Homo sapiens: one gene and its partners. The protein of the gene in region 6 interacts with the protein of the main gene of each other region in a pairwise test. Each region holds a gene or a part of one and is shown on either strand. Other genes may lie near its edges.

Evidence for each region.
Region 1: the proteins of DLC1 (region 6) and STX17 interact in a two-hybrid assay, tested with the Homo sapiens proteins (one large-scale study listed by BioGRID and IntAct).
Region 2: the proteins of DLC1 (region 6) and MAPKAPK3 interact in a two-hybrid assay, tested with the Homo sapiens proteins (one large-scale study listed by IntAct).
Region 3: the proteins of DLC1 (region 6) and TRMO interact in a two-hybrid assay, tested with the Homo sapiens proteins (one large-scale study listed by BioGRID and IntAct).
Region 4: the proteins of DLC1 (region 6) and TMEFF1 interact in a two-hybrid assay, tested with the Homo sapiens proteins (one large-scale study listed by BioGRID).
Region 5: the proteins of DLC1 (region 6) and AOPEP interact in a two-hybrid assay, tested with the Homo sapiens proteins (one large-scale study listed by BioGRID and IntAct).
Region 7: the proteins of DLC1 (region 6) and BAAT interact in a two-hybrid assay, tested with the Homo sapiens proteins (one large-scale study listed by BioGRID and IntAct).

The regions. Positions count from the first base shown.
Region 1 is NC_000009.12:99,947,765-99,951,978, reverse strand, and holds part of STX17 (syntaxin-17), read right to left. Parts: intron 920-4,214; coding exon 694-919; intron 1-693. UniProt on the Homo sapiens protein: SNAREs, soluble N-ethylmaleimide-sensitive factor-attachment protein receptors, are essential proteins for fusion of cellular membranes.
Region 2 is NC_000003.12:50,644,526-50,648,739, reverse strand, and holds part of MAPKAPK3 (MAP kinase-activated protein kinase 3), read right to left. Parts: coding exon 4,208-4,214; intron 3,031-4,207; coding exon 2,955-3,030; intron 2,601-2,954; coding exon 2,476-2,600; intron 2,001-2,475; coding exon 1,915-2,000; intron 1,618-1,914; coding exon 1,537-1,617; intron 847-1,536; coding exon 694-846; 3' UTR 1-693. UniProt on the Homo sapiens protein: Stress-activated serine/threonine-protein kinase involved in cytokines production, endocytosis, cell migration, chromatin remodeling and transcriptional regulation.
Region 3 is NC_000009.12:97,908,801-97,913,014, reverse strand, and holds part of TRMO (tRNA (adenine(37)-N6)-methyltransferase), read left to right. Parts: intron 1-39; exon of another isoform or gene 40-1,997; coding exon of another isoform or gene 1,998-2,097; intron 2,098-2,398; coding exon 2,399-3,055; intron 3,056-4,214. UniProt on the Homo sapiens protein: S-adenosyl-L-methionine-dependent methyltransferase responsible for the addition of the methyl group in the formation of N6-methyl-N6-threonylcarbamoyladenosine at position 37 (m(6)t(6)A37) of the tRNA anticodon loop of tRNA(Ser)(GCU).
Region 4 is NC_000009.12:100,479,110-100,483,323, forward strand, and holds part of TMEFF1 (tomoregulin-1 precursor), read left to right. Parts: intron 1-4,214.
Region 5 is NC_000009.12:94,732,987-94,737,200, forward strand, and holds part of AOPEP (aminopeptidase O), read left to right. Parts: intron 1-4,214. UniProt on the Homo sapiens protein: Aminopeptidase which catalyzes the hydrolysis of amino acid residues from the N-terminus of peptide or protein substrates.
Region 6 is NC_000008.11:13,500,958-13,505,171, forward strand, and holds part of DLC1 (rho GTPase-activating protein 7), read right to left. Parts: intron 1-4,214. UniProt on the Homo sapiens protein: Functions as a GTPase-activating protein for the small GTPases RHOA, RHOB, RHOC and CDC42, terminating their downstream signaling.
Region 7 is NC_000009.12:101,360,842-101,365,055, forward strand, and holds part of BAAT (bile acid-CoA:amino acid N-acyltransferase), read right to left. Parts: intron 2,175-4,214; coding exon 1,587-2,174; 3' UTR 1-1,586. UniProt on the Homo sapiens protein: Catalyzes the amidation of bile acids (BAs) with the amino acids taurine and glycine. More than 95% of the BAs are N-acyl amidates with glycine and taurine.

The DNA of each region.
Region 1 (4,214 bases), on a different chromosome or scaffold from region 6:
AGCTTTCTAGTAAACAATTTAAGTAGGAAAACCTTATCAGTTATTCCATTGAATACCCAAAAGATTTTAAAAAAAAAGACCAACTACTTTGAAGTACTACTATGTATTAAGCCAAGAATATTTTCAGAATTAAAGACATTATTATAATGTGATCAGCAATTATCAATTACATCCTTAGAAGAGATGTAATGACAAATTTCACAGGGCTGTTTCTTAGAGTATCACTTCACAGAAGATGATGGCTTAACTCCCATTGTAGATTACTTAATGTTGTCAGTTATTCAGAGAACTTGGCTGAAAGATAGATCTAACATCCCCTCTGAAAATCAGAATGCTTAAGAAAAAAAAGCATGCCTGAAGAGGTCACCCCTGCACCTGGAAAGGAGTAAAGAGTACTTTGCAGACAAGAATGACATTATCCTTAGGAAATATATTTAAATTTCTCTTCAATAAATAGACAAACGGGTACTTTCCCTGAAGTCCCACTCCATAAGCATAGCCTTAAATTTTTTATTCTGCAAAATATCCAGGGTACACATTTCCAGGAACACTGATCAGGGTCCAAGGATTCAGCATATTGGGATAGTGAATGGTCTCTGAAGACCTATAGATAATTCAGTATCTACTCAAGGAGGTGATCTTTAATTAACTGCACTACTGTGACTGAGAATAAGACTTAGCACAATACATTACCACCAACAGTCATGGATCTGGTCAAAGGAGGCTGTAGCAAAGTTTCTTCATCATTAAATTGCTTCTTAAGTTCTTCTACAGATTCCAAATGGAGTTGGAGAAATTCTGCTGTTGCTGCTGATGCTTCTTCTTTAACAGGATCTATCATTCTCTTCAGAAGTACTAGGTCATCCTTTCGGACTTTCAAACAAAGTTTCTCAATTTCTCGGATATTGGATCGGAGTTGCTATAAAAGAAAAAAATCATTAATGCCACCATTTCTTAGTATAAGATATCTTTCTTTTCAGAAGTAATGTTATAATAGTTGTGGATGGAAATTATAACAAATATCTCCACAATAGAAGGTGTAGCATAATACTTTTACATTTTCCATGTCTCTGGCTGGCCAAATGCAGCATCTTTGGAACCCACATGCTCATACTTTGAATTTATTTAGCATTTTTCCTTCATTAAATGTGGTTATACAAAAATAAATGCTCTTCACAATAAATCAAACACTACAGAAGCATATGAAATAAAAATGATATTCTCACTTCACCTATCCCACCCCCTCTTAACTCAATACTCCCACACATTTCTCACGGCTCATGCACACATTTAACATATATAAGGCTTCTCCCTTTTTATTAAAAAATGGATTACATTATACACAGTAATCTATAATTTGCCATTCCATACTCAACAATATTATCCCTCCTGCTCAATGGTTACACTATATTCCACGGTGTAGTGTAGAATAATTTACTCAGTCACTCCTTCGGTGATCAACATTCATGTTGTTCCTAATTTTTAGTTATTACAAACTATGAAACAAATATCCCTGCATATAAGTCCTAATTTACTATATTAGTATATATTAACATTATAGTATACACTAATATTAATATATTATTTTGTGTAGGAAAGACTCCCAGAAACAGGAATATTCAAATGATAATGTGCATTTTTATTTCAGAAGCTATTGTTGTTTTTTTCCCAAAAAGCAGTAACACTTCACACTAGCATCAAGGTATGATTGCCTATTTCTTCACATGCTGCCAGTCCTGCATGTCATCTCACTGTTGCTTTACTCTGCACTTCCCTATGAATGAAGTTGTTAGATTTTTATCAAATGATTTTCCTTCTTTTTGAGAAATACCTACTGGCTTAGTTATAAATTTACCTCTAATATGTTGCTATAATGAATTATGTACAGATTTTGTAGTGTAGAGTCATCTTTATATTCCTGGGATAAAGCCTTTCTAGTCAATATATATAATTTTTAAATACAATGCTGAATTCATTTGCTAGTATTTTATTTGAAACTTTAGCACATAGGAGTGTGTGTGTGTGTGTGTGTGTGTATACATGTGTGCATGTACACAGTTTGTGTATTTATACTATCTTTACTAGGTTTAAATTTGCTTTAACAGGTTTAAGGTTGTGCTAACTTCATAAAATATACTGGGGAGCTTTCCCTCTTTCTCAATGGTCTATACTTTGAAAACAAAGAAACAATCCCTTTAAGATTAAATAGAACAAATTTGCAAAAATAATCAAAGTAAGAAAAGTTATATGTCTATTCATATATTTTAAATTATTTTCCCCTAAAGTGTTTTCACAATATTAATGCAAATCCTACACAGTAGACAGACCAGTTAAGTAAGAATTAATTTTTCAAGTGCATACTCTGAGTGAGGTGTTACATTATTACAGTCCAAATTATTACATATGGAAAAAGCAAACAAAAAAAAACCTGTTTAGGATTTACTTAAGTTATCTAGTGGCAAAACTGGGGTTAAAACCCAGATATTCCGATAGGGCCAGCAATCTTTCCACTAAACTATAATAATAATGTCTATCTATGTAGTATCTTAATATAATACAATCTAAAGTTTCCATTTTACTGTAGTAAAATTAAAGTCAATTCTAGAAAAAAAAATAGTTTAGTTACAACCTAAAGCATCTTGTAAGATTTTTCTGGGTGAAAAAATTGTGCCTCTATCTTACCATGACTCTATACTTCCTGTAACCTTATCTTCAGTCTCTTACCATTCTAATATGAGCTGAAAAACCTAAGGATAATTAAACTGTAGATTCAAAATATGTGAAATGTAGGTATTAATATGTTAAAATTATATAACCTTAAAGGGGGCATAAGTGAGCATCTAATACAACCTCACAATTTTACAATAAGGAAACTGGAGTCTAGACAAACACAGTGGCAGAATTTGGACTACAGCCCAGGCCTCAAGTCCCAGAACAATACTGTTTCCAACACACCACCATTTCCTGGCTATGTGACTCCTTTCTGGACCATAATTATAAAGCTTGGTTATATAGTTACCAGTCTACAGAAATATTTTAGGTAATATTATCTTGGAGAAGCATTAAAAATTTTCTACAGCCAAACTTAATGAGCATTTGTTTGTGACACCTTCCTCACTTATGTAATTTGTACATATGTCTGTCCCCAGTCAAATTACAGTATCCAGCTAAGAACTCTATTACTATGAGTAATGTGGAAAATTTTGAGGGAGAGAAAGAAAAAACCCACTGAAGTATAAAATCTGATACTATAATAACAGCAACAATGATAACAAAAACATAAATAGTGGCTAAATTTTAATCAACACTTAAAGTTATCGATTGTGCTAACAGCTTTACGTCTTTTATCTTCCCCTCACAATATATCTTTGAAATGGATATTACTATTATTCTCATTTTATAGAAGAGAAAATTAAAGCAAGAAGTTCAAAAAGTAGCCCAGGATTACACTGCTAGTAAATAGTATAGGCAAGAATCAAATCCAGACCACAGATCTTGTGTTCTAACTACTTTATTACATAGCAAACACCATCCAACACAAACATAATGCAAATCACACACACAAGCCACATATGTAATTTAAAAATTTTTTAAATTACATTAAAAAAGTAAAAACAAGGGAAATTAATTTTAATAATATTTTATTTAACCTAATATAGCTAAAATACTATTTTAATATGCAATTATAAAACTTAAAATCTTTTACATTGTTTTATTTGTAGTAAGTCTTAGAAATCTGGTATATATTTTACATTCACAGCACATCTCAGTTCAAACTGGCTACATTTTAAGTGCTCAACAGTCACATGTAGTTAGGAGCTACTACATTGGATAGGGCAACTAGGGAATCTCTCTAAAATCAAACAGAGGGAACAGGATGGTAAAACCATATATGAAGAACATAAAGTCAGGTGTTTCTGCTTCTGAAAACAGCAGGCTAGGTGATTCAGACTAACCTTCCCACTAATGGCTACTTCAAAAGTTGAACAAAAATCAAATCACAAAACAAACCAATAGGAAAAAAAAAAAAAACTTGAAAAGTACCATAAAGCAAACAAGATAGTAAGTAACTATAGGACAAGAATTGGGCAAAGATGGAAATCTAGAGAGGTGAGTCCTGAACTCAGGACCACATTTGCTTTGGGAGTATTTGCATACCAGAATATAAACTCACAAAGCTTGGATTAAAATTTCAATGCCAAGACCTGCTAAGT
Region 2 (4,214 bases), on a different chromosome or scaffold from region 6:
GTGAGGGGATGGCTAGGCCCAGGGACTCCCTCAGGGGAGAGCGCTGAGTGCCATCTGGGCTGGGGCTGCAGCAAGGCAGGGCTGGACTGCACAGGGAGGCAGGCAGACCGGATCCAGCAGCCTCAGGGCCCAAGGAGGAGTGAGAATGAGAGGGCCAGCCAGTGTGTGAGAAATCAGCCTCCCCAAGGCAGAGGTGAACCCTCAATCGCCCCTCCTCCCTTACTCGCTCACTCAGCATTCACAGGCAGCAACGTGGTCCCTGGTCACCATGGCAACCAATGGCCAATGCCTTTCTCAAGGCCAGGCCCATCTGCCCATCCCACAGGGAGATGTCTCTGTGGAAGATGGGAAGCCCAGCCACAACTCCCAGTGGCCTAGAAAGCTAAGGCCATGCACCAGGGCAGGACAGCACAGAGGCCTCACTCGGGCCAACCTAGCTAAAGGTGCTGCTATGGCAGCAGGCAGCTCCCAGCCCCTAGGCCCTGCCCATCTCTAGGGCTTGAGCCTGGGCCAGAGATCTGAAGGAGGTTTAGGGTCAGGGTCCTCCATCCTGAAGTTCCGAGTGACAAATTAAAACACAACAAAATAATCCTTTTGTTAAAAGAATGACCCTGGGCCCTCCTGGCCAGGGCCTGAGCACATTTCAGTCTGTTATGCAGGCTGAGAGGCCAGGCTCCTCCAAGGCCCCATGAGCTACTGGTTGTTGCAGCCCTGTGAGGCAGAGGAGCTGCCTGCCTGCTTTTTTCTCCTCTTGTTGAGGAGCCGGTTGTTAGAGGTCTTCAGGTCCTTGATCTTCACCTGGTCGTAGTCTACCCGCATAGTGGCCAAGGCACTGGTCATCTCCTCCTGGGGACAGACAGGATGGTGGGCACTAAGAGGTCAGGATGTACTGACCTTAGGAACCATCACCCCCCTGCCTGGGCAGCCCCTTAATGTCAGTGACAGCCTGTGCTGCCTCTGTGCCCACTGTGTGCCCAGCACTGGGCCAAGCCCTTTGCATCACATGATCCTCACTACCGTCCTCTGTGGTAGACACTGAGCTTATTCACTAAGGCACAAAAGGAGAGTTACTCCCTCGGACCACACCAAGGGTAAGTGGGATAGTGAACTAAACCAGTTCCACCACAGAACCACAAGACCTGCAGAGAATGCCATCTCGCTGGGCAACCAGCGCACTGGGGCCTGGAGATTGTGCCACTGGAGCTGCTACTCCATATGTTCAAACGTGGCCTCTGCTGGGTCTAAACCAGGCTGACCACCCTCCCAAATGTTGTTGGTTATAAGAGAGGTCATCATCCAAGCTTGGTACCAAAGCCCCGTTTCATTGAGGAAGTGAGCCAGGAGCACCACACTGAATGGCGTAGTGAGGCCCAATCCTTGGAGTGCCATGGTTGGACCACTGCGACAGTCACTGACACCCTGTGCTCCAGGTATAGAAAGGGGCCAAAGACCCCAGACCCTGGGTAGCCACCCCCCTGAAGTCCCTTTTGCCCAAATCCTGGCACCTGTATTGAGACTGAGGCAGAGCCCACCCACCTTGACTTCGTCCCAGTGGTCTTTGTCCTCCTGCAGCACTCGGGCCGTGTGGAGTGGGGTCTGTGGCACTACCATCGATTGCTGGAAGGAGCCCCACGCCCGTGGATTAGAAACTGGAGGCACCTGGGACAGCACTGGTTCCCCCTACTCCATCCTCTTCTCCCAGACTCAGATGGAAAAACCAAGGCTCAGGGTGGGGAAGGAGCCTCACTAGGGCAGTGACAAAGCCAGGTTGTAGGTGAGGCCCTAGTATCTACCTGTGTGCATGGGCCCATTCCAGCCCTGCACTGGGGCCTCAAAGCAGAGCCACCACCCTCCTGCCCGGCAGCCCCACTCCTGTTGGACACCCTGCCTGCCATGGGAGGAGGAGGGGCTCACGTTGATCCAGGGGTGGTTCATGAACTGAGTGATGGTCAGCCTCTCTGTGGGGTCTGTCTTCAACAGGAGGCGGATCAGCTGCTTGGCTAGGGGGGCCAGGGAAGAGAGGGGAGAGATGAGATTGCAGAGCCAGCCCCTCCACCCTTCCCCACAGACCACAAGCTCTGCTGGGGCAGGGGCTGCATGTGCTCCCAAATTCCCAACCCACAGAAAGAGTGAGCTAACAACTATTTCTTGTTTTGAAACACTAAGTGTTCAGGATAATTGGTTAAGCAGCAGTAGATAACTCATACAGGGCAGCCTTGTTTGTGGTCCTCAAAGGGGAAAATATGAATGAGGAATAGGAGTTAGAGGGAGTTTTGAGGAGGCAAGTTTTGAGCCTGTTTGGCAGATGTAGAAACTGAGGCTCAAGAAGGTTAGGGGACTTGCCTAGGGTCCCATAGCTGGAAAGAGGGGGAGCCAAGATTTGAACACAGGTCAGTTTGACACCAAAGTGATGTTTCCCAGAATGAAAGCCGCAGGGGCCAGGTGAGTCAGGCTGGGACAGAGAGGTTCACTCACCATCCTCAGAGACTTCTGACCACTCAGGATTGGGGAAGCCGTACTGGCCCAGGCGAATCCTCCTCTTCATCCCCGGGGAGATGGCCTGGCCCGTGTTGGAGTAGAAGGGTGGGAAGCCACAAAGGCTGGGGGAAGGGGTAAGTCATTTGGCATAGGGTGGGAGCAGTGCCAGGGTGGACCCATTTCCCCTCAAAAGCCCCTGACTGGGGAGACAGACAACCAGACACCATAGCAATAATACCAGCCCTCCGGACTCCCAGGCACATCCCAGGAATGCCATCAGCCCTTGGCATGGGGAGACCCTCAGGCACCTGAAGGAGTGGTGTCCCATGACCAAAAGGGAAGGGCAGCCTGCATGAGGAGTGACACACACAAGCTCCTCACCAAGGACATGGGGGTGGGGGGACAGAAGTGGTCCTGAGGGCTCACAGTGGGGGTAAGGGCAGGAGATGGAGGCAGGGGGTGGGGAAGGTACTCACAGGATGTACATGATGACACCCAGGGACCACATGTCACATGACTTGTCATACTTCTCTGGACCCAGGACCTCAGGGGCTGCCAGGGCAGAGGGACAGCAGGGCTCTCAGACCCAAGGGTCTTGGAGCCCAGGCAGGAGCCTAAAGCCTGGGCAAGGTGGGGAGCAGGTACCTGGGCTGGGAGGTAGGGCAGAGCAGACTGGCGTCTGGCACCTTTTGGAAAGGCAGCATGTGTGTGAAGTTGGGGGAGGAGAAAGCTCCTGGAAAAAAATCAACCACTTTCAGACATACCCCTAGCTCCCTTGGGCCTGAGCCCCTCTACCAGTCTCAACCTTGGTGAAAGAAGAGAAGAGAAGGCCAGTCTGGGGCTTGGTGGGAAGCTACCGTAGGTGAGAGGGTCTTGGCCTGCCAGCTGTCCTGTGTCCCTTGCCTCCCTGAATGCATAGCCTAGGTCACAGGCAAGGAAGAACCAGGGACAGGGCTCTGCATTCCATCATCAGCTTGGCTACCAATCCATGGAGCCTTTGTCTTCCCTGTGCAATGAGGTGGGTAGGCTAGAAGATTTCTAAGTTAAAATACTTAGTGCAAAACACATCCTAGTTAACAGAGTGCCATTTCAACTGTCTCAGGGAACTTCCCACCCCTTCAGCAGCCCTCCAGGAAGACCTCTTCTGAGGGAGAAAAGCCCTCTGTCATCACCCCACTCTCAGGTTAGGGGGCAGTTTTGGCAAGGAACATTTTCAGATCCGGGGGTTGCCCACTTGCAGAAGGGCAGTGAACTTTTCCAGGAAGCATGAGTATGTGCACACCTCCAAGCCCTGGCTTTAGTGACCGTCTCCCACAAGGCAGGTGACTGGTACCCTTTGTCCCTCCAAGTTAGGAGGAAATGCATGCCCACTTTCTGAATATGAATCCCAGGAAGACAAAAACTAGAGAAAAACAACCGCGGTTGGGCTCCGTCCCAAGCTGATGGCAGCCTTTTATCACATATATATTTAGAGCTGCTGTGATGTCATTCAGCTCACAGGCCACAGCCAGAATTTTCCTGGATCTATTTTCAAAAGCAGAAGCTGAAGTTTGGGAGAATATTTTTGCAGCCTCCGGCCCCCCACGTCACCCGCCTCCATGCAGACAGAATTCTCCCCCTCCCTCCTTGCTGGGCTTTAACCCTTTGGTTTCTGCAACCCACTGGCTACCCCATAATACAGCTGTATAAGTTGGGGTGAGGAGTTACAACTCATGTCCGAAGGACTCACCCACATA
Region 3 (4,214 bases), on a different chromosome or scaffold from region 6:
AAACACATAGACTGGTGGTATATCATTCCTTCCTTGCAGCCTTGGGGAAATGGACAGATATCATGGCTGCAGTGCTGATGTCAACTGTGCTGTGTGGCAGGAGTCTGGGATGAATCACACTACAAGGACAAACATTGGTCAGGTTGTAGAAGTTTTAAACTAGTTTTAACTGTGTGTTCGTATATAACCTAGTTACGCATTTATGGAAAGCATTCCATTCTGACCTAACAGATGCATTTGTTATAGAGGCAGCAGATGAAATGGCAGGTAAACTAGGAGTCAAGAGACCATTCCAGGCTTCAGCCTGCTGGTTGTGAAGTGGGCAAAGGAGAAGGACCTGCTTCCTCTGTGATTCCACAGAATATTTTGAGAATCTTGTAAGAGAGAAGTTCTAAAACTACTTTTTCAGGCTATTGGACACTAAATAGATGAGAGCAGTTATTTTGCTTGTTCTTTCCCAGAACTTGAACTCTCCCACTGGATTGTACTCAACTGGGCCTTAGGTAGTTTTCTCAGAAAAATTCAGTAGCTGATCCACCTTGAATTTTATCAATTTGTAATGGCTAACAAACTTGGATAGCAAGTACTAGAAGATTTTATGATTATTCAGGGACATATTTTCTAGCACTGAATATGTGCCAGACATTGTCCTAGGTGCTAGAGCTATAGTGATAAACAAATCAGATGAAAGTAGAAATCCATGCCCTAAAGAACTTAATGTTTCAATTGGGAAGGTCAAGTCAGATAGGTTAAAAGGCAAACACAGTAGCACTGTAGACATTACTATATAAGCTTTATGGCAACTAGTGTTTGTGCAGTGCTTTACAGTTAGTAAACAGTGTTCACGTACCTTATCTCACAGTGGCTTTGTGGGTTTGACAAAGTAGCAATCCTCATCTCATAGGTGAGGAAACTAGGGCTCTTTAAGATTAGATAATCTGTCTAATAGCATCCAGCCAGGTGGTCATCTGACTCTAAATCCTTTGAAGTCTTACTTATGCTACAGTGCCTTTCTTTTTCCTACAGATATTGTTAGGCATAATTCATCATCTAGCAAGTCCAGAATCATCTTTCCAGAGTTCCAGCTCATTCATAATAACATGTTTCAGAAATCAGGGTCCTGTATTAGTTACGTTTTTCTTAAATGGAGACGGAATCAAATGTGACTGCATGTAGTTTTTCTGTTCTCATTTGGCCTATTTTCCAAGAGTAAGGTTAGTAGATGGCTATTTGTAGCAGTAACTGGACAGCATCTGTCCAGTGGGACAGCTGGAGACTTGTCTTTAGTATTTGGTAATGCTGACTTATGTGCTGCTTAATCTTTTGAGTCTTGATGGATGTATTAGATTTCTATTGTTGTGTAACAAATTACCACAGAATCATCAGTTTAAACAACACACATGTATTATGTGTTTGAAACATTATTATGTATCTGTGGGTCAGAAGGATGGGCACAGCTTAACTAGGTCATCTGCTTAGGTCTCACTAGACTGCAATTAAATTGTCAGCTGATATGAGTTCTTATCTGGAGGCTTGACCATGGAAGAATCTGCTTAAGCTCACTCAGACTGTTGGCCACATTGATTTCCTTGCCATCGTAGTAGGACTGGGGGCCCCAGATTCTTGCTGGTTGTTGGCTGGAGGCTGCCCTCAGTGTCTAAAGGCTGTTTGCAGTTCCTTGCTATGTGGGCTTCCTAGCACGCCTGCCTACTTCAGCAAGCCTTCAAGGAGAGTCTCTCGAGTGAGTCTTCCAGCCAGCAGCAGTGCTAATGAAAAGCATAGTCACTGGAGGGACATCATACCTCTTTTGCCATATTCTGTTGGTTAGAAGCCAGTCACACTCAAGGGGAAGGATTATATAAGGGCATGAACTTCAGGAGGTGCGGGTCACAGGGCCACTTTTGGATCTGTTTGCCACAGTAAGAACCTTCATTGGTCCCACAGAGATATACTGAGGACTACTATATCCCTGGAACAGAAGCACCAGTGATACAAAGATGAGTTGGTCCCAGCCTGTGTTAAGGGGCCTGCCTGCGTCTAGGGATGAAGACTCTAAGCAGGTCACTACCCTACCGTGGGGAAAGCGCTCTAGCAGAGGTTTGTGCACAGGCTTCTCTATGGGGACTGTAGGAAAGAATGCTTTTGTCTGGAGGAGCCAGAAAGGCTTTGTAAAAGGTGTGCTTTTGAGGGCCTCAAAGAGCAAGTAGGAGTTTGATAGGTAGAGAAGAGGATGGGCTACCAGGTAGCAAGAAGGGTGTGTGTTGGTACTAGGTCTGTGTGAGAGAATTATGAGTAAGTGCAGTGAGGCGTAAGCAGACAGTGTTAGAGGATTCTGGGGCGTGACTGTATTCTCCAAGTGTTTGCACTGTTCTTCATTTTTCACGTTTTTATGTCATAGGTGGAGCTATATACCTTTCTGGAATTGACATGATACATGGCACACCCGTACTAGACATCAAGCCCTACATAGCTGAGTATGACTCACCGCAAAATGTGATGGAGCCTTTAGCAGACTTTAATTTACAGAATAACCAACATACACCAAACACTGTGTCCCAGTCTGACAGCAAGACTGACAGCTGTGACCAGCGACAGCTCTCAGGGTGTGATGAGCCACAACCCCACCATAGCACTAAGAGGAAACCTAAATGTCCTGAAGACAGAACTTCAGAAGAAAACTACCTGACACACAGTGACACAGCCAGAATTCAGCAAGCATTTCCTATGCACAGGGAGATAGCAGTGGATTTTGGTTTGGAATCAAGACGTGATCAGAGTTCCAGCGTGGCAGAAGAACAAATTGGCCCATATTGCCCAGAGAAGAGCTTTTCAGAGAAAGGTACAGACAAGAAGCTAGAAAGAGTGGAAGGAGCAGCAGTCTTGCAAGGAAGCAGGGCAGAGACACAGCCCATGGCCCCTCACTGCCCTGCTGGAAGGGCTGATGGAGCTCCCCGCAGCGTGGTTCCTGCCTGGGTGACAGAGGCTCCTGTGGCCACTTTAGAAGTGCGGTTTACTCCTCATGCCGAGATGGACCTTGGGCAGCTCAGTTCACAAGGTATCTTCAGTTTCTTCATTCTGAATGAGAGATGAACTTTTACTTTGAGATTTAGCCAAGTTTGGTATTTGTGAAGGCAGGTATGTGGAGTGTTTGTCAGTATGACTGGTTTTTAGGAAACAGGTATAAAATAATATTTTTGCAGTACCATCATGTGATGACTTTTGTTGGACAACTGTGTGGTCAGCACAGTTAGTTCCAGGCTGTCAGTAAAGCATTGGCAGAGAGTGGCTGCTGCCTCACAAGGTGGCCTATGACTTACAGCCCCTTGTCTACTTGCTACAGTAGTTCTTAGAGTCTTCAAATATCATTCAGAAGCTAAATTGTGCTTGTTCTATACTTATGTACATAAAGTTTTCTTATTTGTTTTACTGTCTGACTTGAGAAATGTTGCATTGTATTCTGACTGTCAGGTAGTCGATAGCTCAGCCTCTGGCACAGAGGACTCTAGGAGCCCAGAGTCACAGGGGAAGAGTCTCTTAGCACAGAACTTGCCCCAACAAAGTCCCACTGCTAGAGGCATACACTTTGCTGCAGAAGAGAGGCCACAGGGCTCTTACATGGAGCCTGCTTACTTTAACACATGGTTCTTAACAAATGTTATCTGGTTTCCCCAGCCCACAGCAGATCCCAAGCAGTAGCCTAGGATGAAGGAAGGGGCTGTTAAGATGTGGATACAGCGATACCAGTAAGAAGTAACTAATTTCAGGCTGGGCACGGTGGCTCACTCCTGTAATCCCAGCACTTTGGGAGGCTGAGGTGGGTGGATCACTTGAGGTCCGGAGTTCAAGACCAGCCTGGCCAACATGATGAAACCCTATCTCTATTAAAAATCCAAAAAGCCAGTTTTGGTGGCAGGTGCCTGTAATTTCAGCTACTCAGGAGGCTGAGGCAGGAGAATTGCTTGAACCTAGGAGGCAGAGGTTACAGTGAGCCGAGATGTTGCCACTGTACTCCAGCCTGGGTGACAGAGTGAGACTCCATCAAAAAGAAGAAGCTGGTTGCCAAGGAGATGTCAGATTGCAAAAAGCTGTTCTTTGTGTTACAACTCAGTAAGGAGCCAGCATAACCATATAAAGAGGGAAGTTCATTTATTCATTCTACAGTTGTTTACTGAGCTTCTGCTAGGTACCAGACATTGGTCTAGGTTCTTGGAATA
Region 4 (4,214 bases), on a different chromosome or scaffold from region 6:
GAATCTCGGGCAGGGCTTTTATCTTCTAGATCCCTGTTGTGTAAAATGTGGATGGATAATAATTAATTTAGCAAACCTTGATTGAATACTGCGTAGTGTAATCTAATATACTGGATGTTAAGGGAAATATATGAGAAGGCTTCCCTGCTTTCAAGGGCCTTATAATCTTATAGAGGTGGTTAGCCTCTTACAGATATATATAGTGGAAGTTTCTGTTTACCACATCTGGGCTTGCTTCCCTACAGCAGTCCCCATCAATAAGCATTTATTGAGCACGAACAAGATAGGATTTTTTAAAAGGGGTACAGTTAAGTGGATTTATATATATTCACAAAATTGTACGACTGTCACCACTCTCTAATTCCAGAAAATTTTCATCACCCCCAAAAGAAACCTCATAGCTATTAACAGTCATTCCACATTCCTCGCCTCCCCAGTCCCTGGTTACTACTAATCTACTCTCTATGGATTTGCCTATTCTAGATATGCATGCAAATGGGATCATATGAGGTGTGTTCTTTTGTGTCTGGCTTCTTTCCCTTAGCATAATGTTTTCAATGTGCATCCATGTTGTAGTGTGTATCAGAACTTCATTCCTTTTTATGGCCAAATAATATTCCATTGTATGGATAAACCACATTTTGCATATCCATTTCTCTACTGATGGATATTTGAGTTGTTTTTACTTTTTGGCTGTTATGAATAATGCTGCTGTAACATTCATGGACAAGTTTTTTGTGGACACATGTTTTCAGTTCTGTTGTGTATGTATCTAGGAGTGGAATTGCTTGGTCATATGGTAACTCTGTGTTTCACATTTTGAGGAATTACCAAACGGTTTTCCAAAGTGGCTGCACCATTTTACATTTCTACCAGCAATGTTTGAAGATCCTAATTTCTCCAGCATCTTCTCCAACACTTGTTATTGTCTGTCTGTTTGATTTTGGCCATCCTAGTGGGTGTGAAGTTATGTATCAATGTCGTTTTTATTTGTATTTTCCTAATGGCTATTGATATTAAGCATCTTTTAATGAATGTATTGGCTATCTGTATATCTTCTTTGGAGAAATGTCTATTCAGATCCTTTGCTGGGCTTGATTTTGACATCTTGGAGTAATCATTCCCTTAGTAAATCATACTAATCAGTTCCCACAGCAAGCACAGAGATGCTCAAATGCTAAGTTGGCTCTCGTTTGTCATTTGATTTTTCTGCTTACTAAGCAAGAGTCAGTTGTATTTGTTTTCAAACTTATTTATACCAGTGGTAATTATGAGTATAATTTAATAAATATTACTCAAATCGATGAAATATGAATACAAAAAGTTGTTTTTATGAAATGCTTTGAAAAGACTTGATAAAGACAAGAAGCTGAAAGAATTGCCTCTGAACGAATTAAATTATGGTTAAGACAACTGAAACAGAGTGGAGAAACCCTGTAAACTTTTGGAAGGATTTCCCAGAAAACACTGCAAGTATTTTTAAGCCCCTGTTCTACTTAAAGGAAAGGAAAATGGACATTGTAGATCTAATGGATTATGGGTGTGATTTATCTAAGGAAGTGGGGAACTGTGTTTGGCAGACTTACACTCAAAAAAAAGGTCTTGGTGCTACATTGGGAAATGAATGTATAATTATGTATTTAAGACTAAAATGGCTAAAATAGATATCATTTTAAATGGTTTCTGCCTTAACTGACTTTTTTGGTTAATAGATCAATGATCACTCTTGTATATGTTTGAAAAGAGGATTTCCACTGTACAAGGTGCCCTGAGGAAGATACAGATGTGGTGTCATGGGAATGTGTAATTCTGATTTGTAGGAATCAAAACTGGTTTCATGGAGTAAGTGGCACTCAAGCTGGGCTGTATGGGGAGAGTAGAATATCACCTAGAAACAACAGACGCACTTTTGCCTGAGGCCTTTGCTGTTGATGTTCCTTTGGCTTGGAATCTTCTTGTCCCAGTTCCTACAGTTGTTTGCTCTAATGTCACCTTCAGTGGTGCCTTAAATTACAGCCTTCTCCACCTTCCATCCACAATGTCTCTCTCATATCCTAATCTTCCTTCGTGCTTTTTCTTGCTCTAGGACACCTTTTCCTGTGTGACATACTATACGTTTTACTTGTTTTCTGTCTCTGTATGTAGCTCTATGAAGGCAGAGATTTTTATCTGTTTCGTTTACCACTGTATTGACAGTGCCCAGATTGGTGTCTGGTACGAAGTTAGGTTCCCATTACATATTTATTTGTGGAATAGATTAATGGCTGAATGAACATAGAAGCTGAACATAGATGAATGAACATAGAATACCTCTTAGGAAGGGTATTCTAGGCTGAAGGAATAGCTTTAGGAAAGGCACAAAGGTGGAAAAGAGAAGGGAGTCTTTTCGAAATACTAAATTGCGGGGATTAAGGCAGGAGATTATGCCACCACATTAAGGTCTTCAAGGCCCATCTGAAGTTTTGGCATTTGGTTCAAAGACATCAAGAAGCTTTTAAAGGGTTTGAGTGACATTATGGTTTTAGAAAACAAAGTCTGAAATTGGTGAAGATGGAATGGAGAAGGGAAGAGCCTGGCGGTACGATGAAAGATAATGGTAGAAATGGGAAGAATTGAGAGGACTTGTTTAGCCTGCACAGGTTTTTTGTTTATTTATTTATTTATTTTTATTTTTAATTGTTGTTGTTTTTTGAGACGGAGTCTAGCTCTGTCACCGGGCTGGAGTGCAGTGGCATGATCTCAGCTCAGTGCAACCTCCGCCTCCCAGGTTCAAGCGATTCTCCTGCCTTAGCCTCCTGAGTTGCTGGTACTGCAGGCGCATACCACTACGCCCAGCTAATTTTTGTATTTTTAGTAAAGACGGGGTTTCACCGTGTTGGCTAGGATGGTCTCGGTCTCCTTGTGATGTGCCTGCCTTGGCCTCCCAAAGTGCTGGAATTACAGGCGTGAGCCACTGCGCCCAGCCTAGCCTGCACAGTTTTTTAAAAAAGTTACATTGGTTGTTAGCCATTAAAAATCTGGAGGTTTCACTTGGCAATCTATTTTTCTGCCGACTCTTCTTCTTCTTCTTTTCTTTTCTTTCTTTCTTTCTTTTCTTTTTTTTTTGGAGACAGTATCTTGCTCTGTTGCCCAGGCTGGAGTGCAGCGGCTTGATCTTTGCTCACTGCAACCTCCACCTCCCAGGTTCAAGCGATTCTCCTGCCTCAACCTCCAGAGTAGCTGGGATTACAGGTGCACGCCACCACGCCTGGCTAATTTTTGAATTTTTAGTAGAGACGGGTTTTCACCATATTGGCCAGGCTGGTCTTGAACTCCTGACCTCAAGTAATCTGCCCGCCTCGGCCTCCCAAAGTGCTGGGATTACAGGCGTGAGCCACCACTCTGGCCTGCATTCTCTTCTAAACTTGGAGGTACTGTCAGCATTGGGCTTTTATTTCCACATTGCAAAAATCAGTCAGTGCTGTCTAGTGAGGCATGAGCTCTTTACTTTGCCCAGTCCTCAACCAGCCAGCCTCTTTTATTGATCTTTTTCTGCCTAAACTTCTGGATCTTCTGCTAGAGATGGTGGGGTGAGTTGTGATGCTCTTAATTTGAGATGGAGAGCCTGTTTGGAGGAGAGTCAAATTGGTGTACATTCCCTCATTCCTGTTATTCACAATTATATGTTTGGATGGGAGACCTTATTTCTCCAGTGCCTAGGTGTTTTGGTCTGAACTCCTCTCCTGCCTGTACTCCTTGTAACTTCCACTGTATTGTTCTTCTTTTTAACTCTTTCCTTGAATCCACTTCCTCCTTTGTATTTGAAACCTACCCTGCTATCTCTGATTATACCATTGTCCTTGAATCACTCTCTGATGTTTTTATGTCTATTTTTTTTTCTTAATTTTATCCCTTAAACTTTCCCTTTTGTCTCTTTCTAAATTCTTTAGGTGGATATAGATCATTATGTTTCTTTAACTCCATTGTCATTTATGATAAAATTTCTCTCATTGTTGTGAAACACATGAATTTATATATGTTACAGATGGGTTTTTTCATGATTTTGCGTTATGGTCTAAGAATGTGTCATATGGAATCTCTGGGTTTTCATATTAAAACTAGGTGCGTCCAGGCACAGTGGCTCATGCCTGTGATCCCAGCACTTTGGGAGCCCGAGGCGGGTGGATCACCTGAGGTCAGGAGTTGGAGACCAGCCTGGCCAACATGATGAAAAC
Region 5 (4,214 bases), on a different chromosome or scaffold from region 6:
TATAACAAATTTTTTTTTGTTTTGGAACATGGCATAACATCTTTTCTAATAAGAGAGTATTTCAGGTTCTGGAAATATCATGGTTACTGTATATGCTGTGTTTAATCATTTTCTTTCTCTTTTTTTTTTTTTTTTTTTGAGACAGTGTCTCACTCTGTTGCCCAGGCTGGAGTGCAGTGGCATGATCACAACTCATTGCAAGCTTAATCTCCCAGGCTCAAGCGATCCTCCTGCCTCAGCCTCCTGGGTGTCTGGGACTACAGGTGCGCACCACCATGCTCAGCTAATTTTTTGTATTTTCTTTAGAGATGACATTTTGCCGTGTTGCTCAGGCTGATCTTGAACCCTTGGGCTCCAGTGATCCACCTGCCTTGACCTTCAAAGTGCGGGGATTACAAGTGTGAGCCACTGCATCTGGCCTAGTCATTTTCTTATGATGGTTTTAGAAATTCCTATTTTTACACCACATGGCAAATTGTAATGTTATGTAGTATTTGCACCGTGTAACCAGCTCATGGCAAGCACTTTAAACATACCCTTAGGTTCCTTCTGTATTGGTGTAGTTCTGTATTTGTTCTCTAGGTTTACACTTTTTTCTTCAGCATATATACCTTAGCCTTTATAAGAAATGGAATCTTAAAGGAAAATAAACTGTTGAAACTTACCTTTAAAACTTCCTAATTCATTTCAATATGACCTACAAATTAAGTGTCAGTTGCCTGTTTAAATTTAAAAGATGATTGAGCTCCTGAAGATCTAAAGATATTTAAGCTATACCAAATGCATTTTCTTACCTTAATCCCAGGTGCTTTTCAATTTCCAGGAATTTGTTGAAATATTTTGTCTTGGCAAGGATGAACTGAATACATGTTCAGTTTACCACATAGAATCTGGTGCTGGGAGTATATTTTAAACCTTGATGAGGTGGATTCAAAACCATTTAGAGAGAAAGGGGCACCCATTTGCAGTGTGTAAAGTCTGGATCTTCCTCTGAATGGAGAAATGTGCGTTCTATATTTATTCCCACAAAGAACTAGAATATAAATATTGAGATCTGAATGCCTTTTATTTATTTATTTTTATTGATTGATTTATTTACTGGCCTTGGCAATCCTCTGAGTTTATACTTGAGCTTATTTTGCCTCTAGATACAGTGCTCCCCGCCGAGTTTATCTGCACAGCTGCAGCGCCGGGAACATGATCACCAAATAAATCCTAGGGTGGGGGAGCTTGTCTTGCTTTCTGGCTGAAGGAAGTGTAGTTGCCTAAGACAGGAACAGAGGGACCTCTTGCCCTTCCTACAGTTTTTCCTGTTATAGGAAGTATAATGTCCTACAGAGAAGGACAGAAAGATGGTTGGTGCAGTGTAGGAAGTGGGAGTTGTAAGGTCAGACAGAGGCCAGCAATTGGGGGAGGGATAAGGAAGCCTGCTTATACTTGGAGTTGCCAAGAAAAGGCCTGCTAATCACCCATATACAAGTTTTCAATAATGAGAATTTCCTCAATATACTTAACAGCAAGAGTCCTACACAGGAAGCCCTGCAGTAAGTGGCCAGAGAATTTGCCAGATGCAGCCATTTTTAGCATCACTGAACTCTACAGTGGATTTTAAATAGTACTGGTTGGGAGGAGACCAGAGTTAGATTAAGCCTTTTCTCAAAGTTTGGTCTCTGGACCAGCATATTAATATTGGAACTTGTTAGAAATGCAGATTCTTAGAGCCCAGTAGTCTGTGTTTGAACCACTGGCCCAGCCAATTCAACCTAATTGTAGTGGCAAAGTCAAAATATTGGGAAAGAATGAGTGAAAACTTCATTATATGTTAGAACATCTTCTGATGTTTATATAGGGATGGCAGGGAATGCTGTTTCAAGTTGAAGGACGGAAAAAACAGCTTCAGTTATAGATACCAGTAACATGCAACATTGTTCCTGTAGGTGGAGAATACCCCCATTTGTGGCTACAATTCACCCTGGTCTGGAATCTAAATTCTGCCAGATTATAATACAAGAGAGCTTTTCACTTTGCCTCTTTTTTCGTTTTAAATATTTATTCCTTGATTGTATTAATATTTATATATGCATTGACCAGTGAAATTTTGTTTTCATGGCTTTGTGATGGCAAGAGTTGGTTTAAGTAGCTCATTGGTTCAGAAACACTAGATACATAAAAATTATCTTGATATCCTGTGTAAAATGTAGATTATTGGCTGCTATCCTTGCATGTCCAAGAATCTGCATTTTTTCTTTTTTGAGACGGAGTCTCGCTCTGTCACCCAGGCTGGAGTGCAGTGGTGCGATCTCGGCTCACTGCAAGCTCTGCCTCCTGGGTTCACGCCATTCTCCTGCCTCAGCCTCGCAAGTAGCTGGGACTACAGGCACTCACCACCACGCCCGGCTAATTTTTTGTATTTTTAGTAGAGACAGGGTTTCACCGTGTTAGCCAGGATGGTCTCGATCTCCCGACCTCGTGATCCACCTGCCTTGGCCTCCCAAAGTGCTGGGATTACAGGTGTGAGCCACCGCGCCCGGCCAAGAATCTGCATTTTTAACAGGCACCACTCACACCAGCCCACCCCCAACCTGCAACGTTGTTTATTGGGCTTGTGGTTCTCAGACTACATTTTGAGAAACACTGTGCTAAATTTCCAAGGAGAGTGATTTTAAAGTAACAGCTTTATTGAGATATAATTCACATGCCACAAAATTCACTCTTTAAAAGAATATAATTTATTGATTTTTAGTATATTTACAGAATTGTGCAACCATCACCACTGTATAATTTTAGGATATTTCCATCATTCCTCAAGGAATCCCTGTACTGATTGGCAGTGACTCCTCATTCTCTCTTTATCCCAGTCCTTGGCAACTACTTTCTGTCCCTGTGGATTTGCCTATTCTGGACATTTCATGTAAATGTAATCATAGAATATGTGGCCCTTCGTATCTTCCTTCTTTCACGTCTCACGGTGTTCTCAAGGTTCGTCCAGGTTGTGGCATGTCGGTACTTCAGTACTTCATTCCTTTTTACAGCTGAATAATATTCCACTGTGTGGATGGACATTTTGTTGATCCATTCATCAGTTGATGGTCATTTGGTTGTTTTGCTGTGCGTATGTTTTTTAAAACAATATTAACTATATCTGGGCCTTTTCAAATCATCACTGGATAATTCTGTAGAGTGTCTTAGAGGGGATTCCTATAGGAAGTGGGGACTGGATTTAGAGTCCCTTCTGTTCATGGATTTGAGGAGTCTGTATCTGTAATTTCTTTGGGCTAGTGAAATACATTCTTCTAAGAGCTAGAGCAGCTACTTTTTCTTCATAGCAGAACATTTGATATTGAAAAAAATCTTTTTACATGACTTGTTTAAGGACTATATTTCAAAATAGTTTCTATTAAAAATAGTATTCTTTAGCATTTCTGGGGAGGAGGAACTCTTACTGAAAAAGCTGGTATTTTTGTCTGTATTTTCTTTTCTTTTCCAATCTCTTCATTTTTACTCTACCGAACCCTATAACCCAACTCTATTAATCTAGATCCTCTTTCCAGCACATAAATATTTATGGACAGTAATAAATTATATTAGTTCTAATAGAGTTTAAAATGTTTTGTGAATTTTTATCCCAGCATGACAAAAATCACTGGGTGGTCTGATACCACCTTCATCTTTAAATATTTAACCAATTCTTTTTATTTTTAAAGGCTACATTAATTGAATGATATCCATAAAAGTGTTTAATAGTACTTACCTTGGGCCCACAGTGCGCAAAGCACTTCATGGAATTAAGGTCCTTTTTGCATCTGCTCTCCTCATACCTTATTTCAACTGTGGTACTCAAAATCTGGGCCCACCACTCTGCAGTGGGGACAGTGACTGAACTTGCATGTGACTAGGATTATGAAGGGTTTAGAAACTGTGTCATGTGAGAGTTGGCTGAAAGAATGGAGGTTGTTCAGTTGTTAAAGAGACTACTCAGGCAATGACAGCCCTCCCAGCCATTCAGAGCTTGTCTAGAGAAATCTTATTCTTCCTTTGGGTAGTAGTGGGGAGAAACTGGAGTGAAAGGATATGTCAACAGGCTGTTAATTTTGTTGGGTTATAAGTAGGCCAAAAACATGGAGATTTTTTTTAATGTTTCTTTCTTCTTTTTTTTTCTGTTAGACAGAGTCTTGCTTTGCTATCCCAGCTGGAGTGCAGGCTCAAACTCCTGG
Region 6 (4,214 bases):
AACTTGGTCCTGCTTCTAAGGCCCAGACTGAGATAGTCAACAAACTTCATTGTCTCCATGGAATTATGAGATTCTACCTTCATCCCTTCTTCCCACATAACTTTAGTATGTGTAAACTCTAAATATTTTATGCAAGAATTCAAGTGAACATAAAGGAAGATATGACTATAAGACAATTGGGACTATTCTTCAGAAACTTCAGTCTCATTCTGTTTGGCTTATAAGAAGTTTAGTTTGCATATTTCTGTTAGAATATGGCCATAAAATTTAAGTAAACAAGAAAATCATGCATAAGACAAGCTTAGAATACAAACACATACCAGGTACCCAAATTTTTGCCTTGAATTCTTCAAACCCTTAGTTAAAGGAAAGAAATAATACCAGTGTCAACTCAACGTTATAAAAATGACTAACCCAAATTTTGCCCCACAATGAAACTATATTATTGGACTGTAAAAGAAAAATCCCATTCACAGAGCAGACACTTTTAGTTTTTACTTCACACGAGAACTGTCAGCACACAACATGGGTTGAGTTACTGATTTCTGCTATAAACAAGATTAACTGCTATACTGATTTTCGATCTCTTTAGTCTATTCTATTGTAAAGGGCCTTGACTCCCCAACAAAAATTTCGAGCTGTTCTGACTAAGCACATGCCTGAGAGGTAAATATTTCCAGTCTGTAAAAACTGGCGAAATTGACATGTGCTAGAATTTTAGTATCCCAGCCTGACCAAGTATCTTTCTGGATACTATTTGGTTCCCTCAGAGGTCTGTGGCCATCTTGAAAAGTGGTCAGCCTTCACATTTTCCATGTTGACGTTCACTCTGCACTCAAAAGAAAATATAAAATCTCTGAATTCCATGCATAAGTCATTATAACGTGGGAGGCTACGGAAAGTGGAAAGAACACATAGATGCAAGCCAGAAAATTTCTGCTTTCATGGGCACATTTGGGAGGTAATAGGGTTTTAGATACTTTTCTCTCTTTATTTTTATCCAGTGTAGAAAGAGCCGGCTCACTTAAGAAATACCAAGTGGTATTACGATGTCACTCCTAAGCCACATTTATATTTTAAGTTGAGCCTGAATTCTGGTTTCATTTCTTTTACTAAGAAGAAATATAGTTTTATTAACTTTTTAGGCAAAAAGAATTACACAAAAATTTTGCCTTTAAGACTTGACAATAATATTCATTAATTTCTGTCACTCAACCTTGACAAGTAGGTAAGTATTTCTGTCAAATCAAAGGAAGATAGTTCAACAAGTTCTGAGACAATCTAACTGGAAAGAGAGACTATAAATAAGATAAATCCAATAAAGCATTAACTCTTCTTGCTTTCATTTCTAATCTAGGTGCTTTCAACATTTCCAAATCATTTCTGTAAGTGTACACTTTTATTTTTAAGATATGCAATTTCTCAATTTTCATAACGATCATTATTACATTTGGCATCTTCATTCATTCCATGTCATGTGGTCTGATAGTTTTTTTAAAAAAATGAATGTCTGCAAGCTCTCCTATCCAGTTTCTATTTAAATTTTGATTTGTAAGATTTATAGTTAAATCTGTCTCTATGATTTAAAGACCAGATTATTAATAAATAGGAGCATTAGATTATTGTCAATCACATCTGAGTTTATAGGTCTCATTTCCTAAATCATCTGAATTGATTATAATCTATCCCCTAATAGAGAGAAATCTTTGTAAAAGACTGACTTCTCCTGTGAGCCTCCTCACTGGGCCGCCTTATTTAAAATTACATTTCAAAAAACTGACTACTTATTTTTCAGATTTCTATTACATTTCTTTTGTAATCCTATTCATGCAGTTTCATTCAGAATGAGCTCAGTTGCTGAGGATTTGGATGGAGGATCTGGAAAATTGTAGGTCATTTCAGGATGTTGGTTTTATGAAGTGAATTTCCATGGGGATTTTTCACTTCTTAAATTCATGTGTTCAAGCACCGTGACATTAACATCACAAGAGACTGTATGTACTTCTAATGATGCTATGATTCTGGAAAATACTTTTGAAATTTCCAAATTTGTGATATTCGTGCATGATTTTGAATTCATTGTTTGGGTTAATTTTGTAACACTTACCATGCCTTAACGTAAGAGTTTTATAGCATACAATATATACATTAAAGTTGAACAAAATTACTGGGCATGATGGCTCACGCCTGTAATCCCAGCACTTTGGGAGGCTGAGGTGTGCGGATCACTTGAGCCAGGAGTTTCAGACCAGCCTGGGTAACATAGAGAGATGATGTTTCTACAAAAAATGCAAAAATTAGCCAGGAGTGGTGGCGTGCACCTGTAGACCCAGCAACTTGGGAGGCTGAGGTGGGAGGATTGCTTGAGCCCAGGAGGTCAAGACTGCAGTGAGCCATGATCGCACCACTGCACTCTTGCCTGGGTGATAGAGCAAAAAAAAATAATAATAAATTAAACAAATTAAATGTTACCGTATTTAACAATTGGAGACATTCTAGTTTGAAAATCACTGATCTATATTTGATATCAAATGATCATGCTCTATTTTTGCACTTGTCTCTGAAATAGAAGACCACCTTATAATTTGGCCTGCCAATTGTTCTTAGAAAAGAAGAGCTTGATAATAATTACTACTGCTGATTCTACAGCCTGAGAGAGCAAGGTGCAGATGAAGTACCACTGGCTGAAATCAAGTGTTCAGTCTGTAGAACTGACAGTAGTTAGTTCATAATCACTATTCATCAAGCATTTATTTAGTACCCAGTGAGTGGCAGAAACTTGTCTAAACATTAGGAATATAAACCTGAATTGTATAGTCTACCTTTGCTACTGAAGCTTACCAATTTTGTGGGAGAAACTCCTGTAGACAAGGATAATAGTTACAAAGAAAGTTCTATCATAGATATCTATCTGTGGTAAATATCTATCTATCTGTGGTAAGTTTTCTGCCTCCAGAACGTTCAAGTCAAATGGTATTTGAGGTACAGTTTCCTACTGGATAGAAGAAATCTTCCTTTCTTTCTGGCTTCAGATTTCTACTATTCTAGAATTACCTCTTTGGAAAAGATAGCAGAGGTAACAATAAATTCCAGAGAATTGCTTGCAACTCGAAAACTCACTAGTTACCTTGGAGGGTAACATTTATCAGAAACATTTCAGAGAATTTTTTTTTTTTTTTTTTTTTTAAGACAGAGTTTCACTCTTGTTGCCCAGGCTGGAGTGCAATGGCGCCATCTCAGCTCACTGCAACCTCTGCCTCCTGGGTTCAAGTGATTCTCCTGCCTCAGCCTCCCGAGTAGCTGGGATTACAGGCATGTGCCACAATGCCAGGATAATTTTTTATTTTTCCTAGAGACAGTTTTCTTCATGTTGGTGAGGCTGATCTCAAACTCCTGACCTCAGGTGATCCGCCTGCCTCGGCCTCCCAAACTGTTGGGATCACAGGCGTGAGCCACCGCGCCCGGCCTTCAGAGAACATTAAGAGAAGAAATTTTTCAAAGAAAACAATTTTAGCATGTGTTCCAGAACAAATGATTCAAGTCTTCCGATTGAAGGGAACTCATGAGGATGCAATGGTACCAGAAAGAACAATAGACCACGTAAGAAATGTCGTTGTGAATTTTCAGAACATAGGAGGTAAGCAAATGGTTCTAAATGTAATCGGAGAAAGAGAAAAAGAGATGATATATTAGGAGCTGGGAATCAATGGTATCAGATTTGTCAAAAGTAACAGTGCAGGGAAGACGACAGGCAAATACGACTTCAAAATTTGGATGGGAAATTATGTCTGCCTTAAAATTATATGAAAAGTCTTACTTTTTTTTTAACCTCTTCTCAAAAGCTACTGGAGAGATAGCTAACCCCAAATTAAAAAATAAACACAGTGGGAAAGACATGGCAAAAGGAAGCCAAGAATTCAGCACAAGTGAGGAAGGTATAGAATTTTCAGGATAAAAGTTGTGTAGCAAGTCCAGTGGTCAATCATTTCACATAACTCCTAAAGTTGTCTCTGGGAGATGTCTCTAAAAAAAGGGAAATAATAAATTATATATGACATATTGAGAGGAATTTTATAATAAAGTCAAGCAATTTGGATGGAAGAATTATTAATAGTTATAGAGAACACTAGGGATATCAATTATCAACCACAGGAAAAATAGTTTTACAAGAAGGAAAATATAATTATAGTATACTCCATAAGCTGTGGCTAATT
Region 7 (4,214 bases), on a different chromosome or scaffold from region 6:
AAATGCAAACAAACACTAAAAAAGCACTTGCTTATTCATACAGGAGTGAGATCATTTAGCTGTGACTTTTTACACTTGGAGAAAACATGTAAGAAAACATTTCTTGGTGCACAAGAAGGATAAAAATGCAAATGTATGGTATGTAAGATCATGTTAGCAGCCAGTGTTGGAGTAAGACATGGATCTTGACCCTATGGTTTTTGTGTAGACTGTTCCAATAAATCACAACCAGGAAGGCCAGCAAGTGTAGATGAGAGACAGGATACAGAATCCCTCATGATAAAGACTATGAGGAGAATGAAGTAGGAGAAGCTGATGAAAAGTGGGTGGATGATGGAGATCAGAATGATCCATCTCAATGAGATGAATTAGCAGATGTTTGTATGTCTCTAGATATTTAACTGACCCACTATATTCCTCAAGGATACTGCATTTGGACATAATACAAATTGGCAGTTTGGAATGTTGAACTTAAAGTCTTGCAAAATGTGGTACATGCTAGATGGTAGTTATGTTGCTATGAGGACTATATGATCAAAGCCTTATAGCAAAAAAAATTTTTTAATATTTGCAAAGGACTGTACAGCAAACAACCATGTGGTTGAATTACATGCAGTCCTCATATATTCAGTTGGTTAGCAAACTAAAGTATTTTTTATTTATGGGATGTACAGTAACTATTGGGTCTTACGGAAATATAGTACCTGTCCTTATAGAGCTCACATTCATGTGCTACTCTAACATGACTGAAGAAATTCATTATGGAAGTACAGTGATAGTTGACCCAATCACTCAGTTTATCAAACTCCCCAGGCTAGCCTGTACTAGTAGAGTTGTGTTTCTATTTTTATTTTTTACTTTTATTAATTTTATTTTTAATACAGATTTTCAGTAAGGGGCATTTTCAACCTAATTGGTTCTATTTTCTTGTATTTTCCATTTTAATTTGCTTCATAACTTAAACCAAGGCTCTTCCAGTCTTAGTTATTATGTCTCAGTTATGTGCCAATGGGCATGTTTTTAAGAACTGAAGAGGTAATTTATTGCAATGAACTAACTGACCTCCTCCATTCCTTCTTTCCTTTTTGACATGAATTTTACTACCCCACAAATGAAAAATGATGTTGCAAAGTTACTGTGGTGAAGTTGAAAAATATCACTAAAATGATTATAATTTAGTATTAATTTTCTCCTGCTGCTCTAATCTGATAAATTCTTACTATATAGTGTTTTCTGACATGGTATTTGGTTTTATATCTGTTACTTTGGTGCTATTCTTGTTTGCCTTTTCTTATTTTTGCCAGTGTACTATACCTCAGTCCTATTTAGAAGACCTGATGGAAAGAAAAGTCATGTAAATAATAAGTAAAATGATTTGTTTTATGATTTATTCACCATGTCCAGTTTGGTTAGCTTGTTATGCAGTATAAGTGAAATATCAGGTTTTTACCCTATGCTCTTTTTAATCATTAAAATTAATACAAAATGTGTGTGTGGCAGCTGGGGGAGACATTCCGCCATGAAAATTGAGAGAAGGTCCCGGTAAAGAGATTTGCTTCTTTATTTTCTAGGAATATCTAGTCTTCTTAGAGTTGACTGGTCACATCTGGAATGAGGTGCTTCCTGAGAAATCTCTGGATCTCCTTCCAAGCATGTTCCTGTGCAGCTGCGTGTGGGATCACCTCTCCTCCCCAGTGTAACCTCAAATCGTGGGTCGTTGAGGCACAGCACAGAGGAGAATAGGGAGGTTCTATCAGGTGGCCTGCCCCAGGGTAAGATAGCAGGGTCCAGTTGTTCTTCCCATGTCTCTTCAGCTGTCCTATGGCTTGTTCAGCGTGTGCTTTGCTGTTGATAGTCTTATCACCTTCTCCTACAATGAAGAGGAATTGCCCCTGGGCCTCTTCAATAGGAAACAAATATTGACTGGCCCCAACTTGAGTTGTCTCAAAAGTGCGATAGAGCTCTAGTAACCCCAAGGCATTGGTGGATATTAATTGTGCAGAATGGGGAAGGGGCTGATGGATCTGACCATGATATACCTGTGGAATGCCAAAAGGAAAGTTGGTCCCATTAATAAGTACCGTGGCTGTGACTTGCTTTAGGTAAATAGCCATAGATAGTCCAATCTGTACTCCTTGACATACAGAGACTACCCCAACGCCTGAGCCAAAGACCTGAAAAAAATAATAGAAATGAGAAATTATTCTAGCCTTCATTTAGGAAAACTCCACAATCTCAAACAACCAAAGAACTTCACTGGCTAATGAGAACAAAGCAAGTATTAATCCTACCCACATCCCTAGCTATAGAGTTCTGGAATATATAATATGTATTCAAAAGAAATACTCCAAAAATATGTCAAGCTTTACCGACTATATATTACGGATTCAGTATTGTGTTAGGTTCTGAGTTTAAAATGCCCTAAAGAAATGCAAATGTCGCAGGGAAAGTAAGAAATGGCACATGACTATTGTGAATAATGTGGGTCAGGGTATAGATGATTGGTACACTTTCCTCCCTTCAGAGGAAAGGGCACCTTGTAGGAAGAGACTGAGAAAGAAAGTGAGATCAGTAGGATAGAGTTGAACAGAGGATTCTAGATTTGCTTTGTTTTTTCCAAAAGTTTTCTCATTGTGGAGAAAAATGTCATAAAGGAGGCTTGGCTCAGCTTCCTCCCTCATTGTCAGTCATCAAATAAGCATCCTTAAATTATCTATCCTACGGCAAGCACTGGGAGTCACAGAGAGAAAAGGAACAATCTCTTGTCATTAAGGAACTCACTGCCAGATGAAGACACAGGAGGAAAAAAAAAAACACACCAGATGATTGGAGCATCATAAATTCTATGATATGAGAATGTATGTAGGCTAGACTGCCAACCCAGATTAGCAGGGAATAAAGGCAGGATCAAAGAAAGGCTCTCAGAGGAAATGGGCTACAAAACAAATGAGTCTTCGTATTAAAAAATGAAAGCCAAGCCTGGTTAACATAGTGAGACCCTATCTCTACAAAACTAAAAAATTAGTTGAATATGGCGGTGTGTGCCTGTAGGCCCAGCTACTCAGGTTGAGGTGGAAGGATCACTTGAGCCCAGGAGTTCAAGGCTTTAGTGAGCTATGATTGTGCTATTGTACCCCAGCCTGGGCAATAGAGTGAGACCCTGTCTCAAGAAATAAAAATTACAAGAAAGTCAACAAGAAGGAATGGTATTCTATGCTGAGTATAGCAGACTCTGTTAGTTGCCTACACAGGAGCCATTCTCCACAATTTCAAAGCTAATATGACCTTGATTTTGTGTGGCATAGCAATATATCCAGCCCCAAGGGATAAATTCTGATGGATCCTAATCTATTTCCCTTTCTCAGCCTCTCTTCCAAGGCCAACATATTCTACCTAAGGACTTTTTTTGCCCCCCGTGCAAACTGACACAGAATCATGAAGAGAAAGCCTATGTTTATGATCATTCTTTTCAGACTAGGATGCTGGCCTGTTGACTTAATTCCTGAAACTGCCAGAGTCATTTTGTGACCTTCAGAGTAAGGCTAGAAAATTGCAGAAATGTCAATCTAATCTCCTTGATTGAAAACTACACTGAGTTTCTAAGCCAAAGTTTGAACCACCTATCACCAAACCTGTTATGTAAGAGAATAAGATACCTTATGCTGATGTTTAAGCCACCATCAGCCACTTTTCTGAGAAATGTAGCCAAAACATTCCTAATGTATTCACCATAGGAGAAACTCATGCAAAAACTGAGAGGCAATGAAGAGCAAGGCATTTAGAGGAACCACAAGTCATTCTTCATTATTTTAATTTAGAGTATAAGGTGGGAAATAACATAATAAGTCTGAAACAGAAAACACCAACTTTATGGTGCATAGCTTTGAAAGATATATTAAGCATCTTCAGTTTTTTTCCTAACTAAGGAGGAAAATTAGGACAAATTTTAAGGATGGGCATAAGATAAGACTGAATAAGTATGCAGAAGTCAGATCATAGGAAGCTTTGTCTAACATGCTAGGAAGCCTGGCCTTTATCCTATAATAAATAGGGAGACTCTTAAGCAAGCGAGTAAAATAGTTGTGTTTACAACTCTGACTTGCATAAATGGAGGCAGAAAAGCCACAGATTAATGCACTGATAAAAGCAGAAAATTATACTGTCCTGAACTAAGGTAACAGCAGTAAAAATGAAAAGGAAACTACATGTTCATG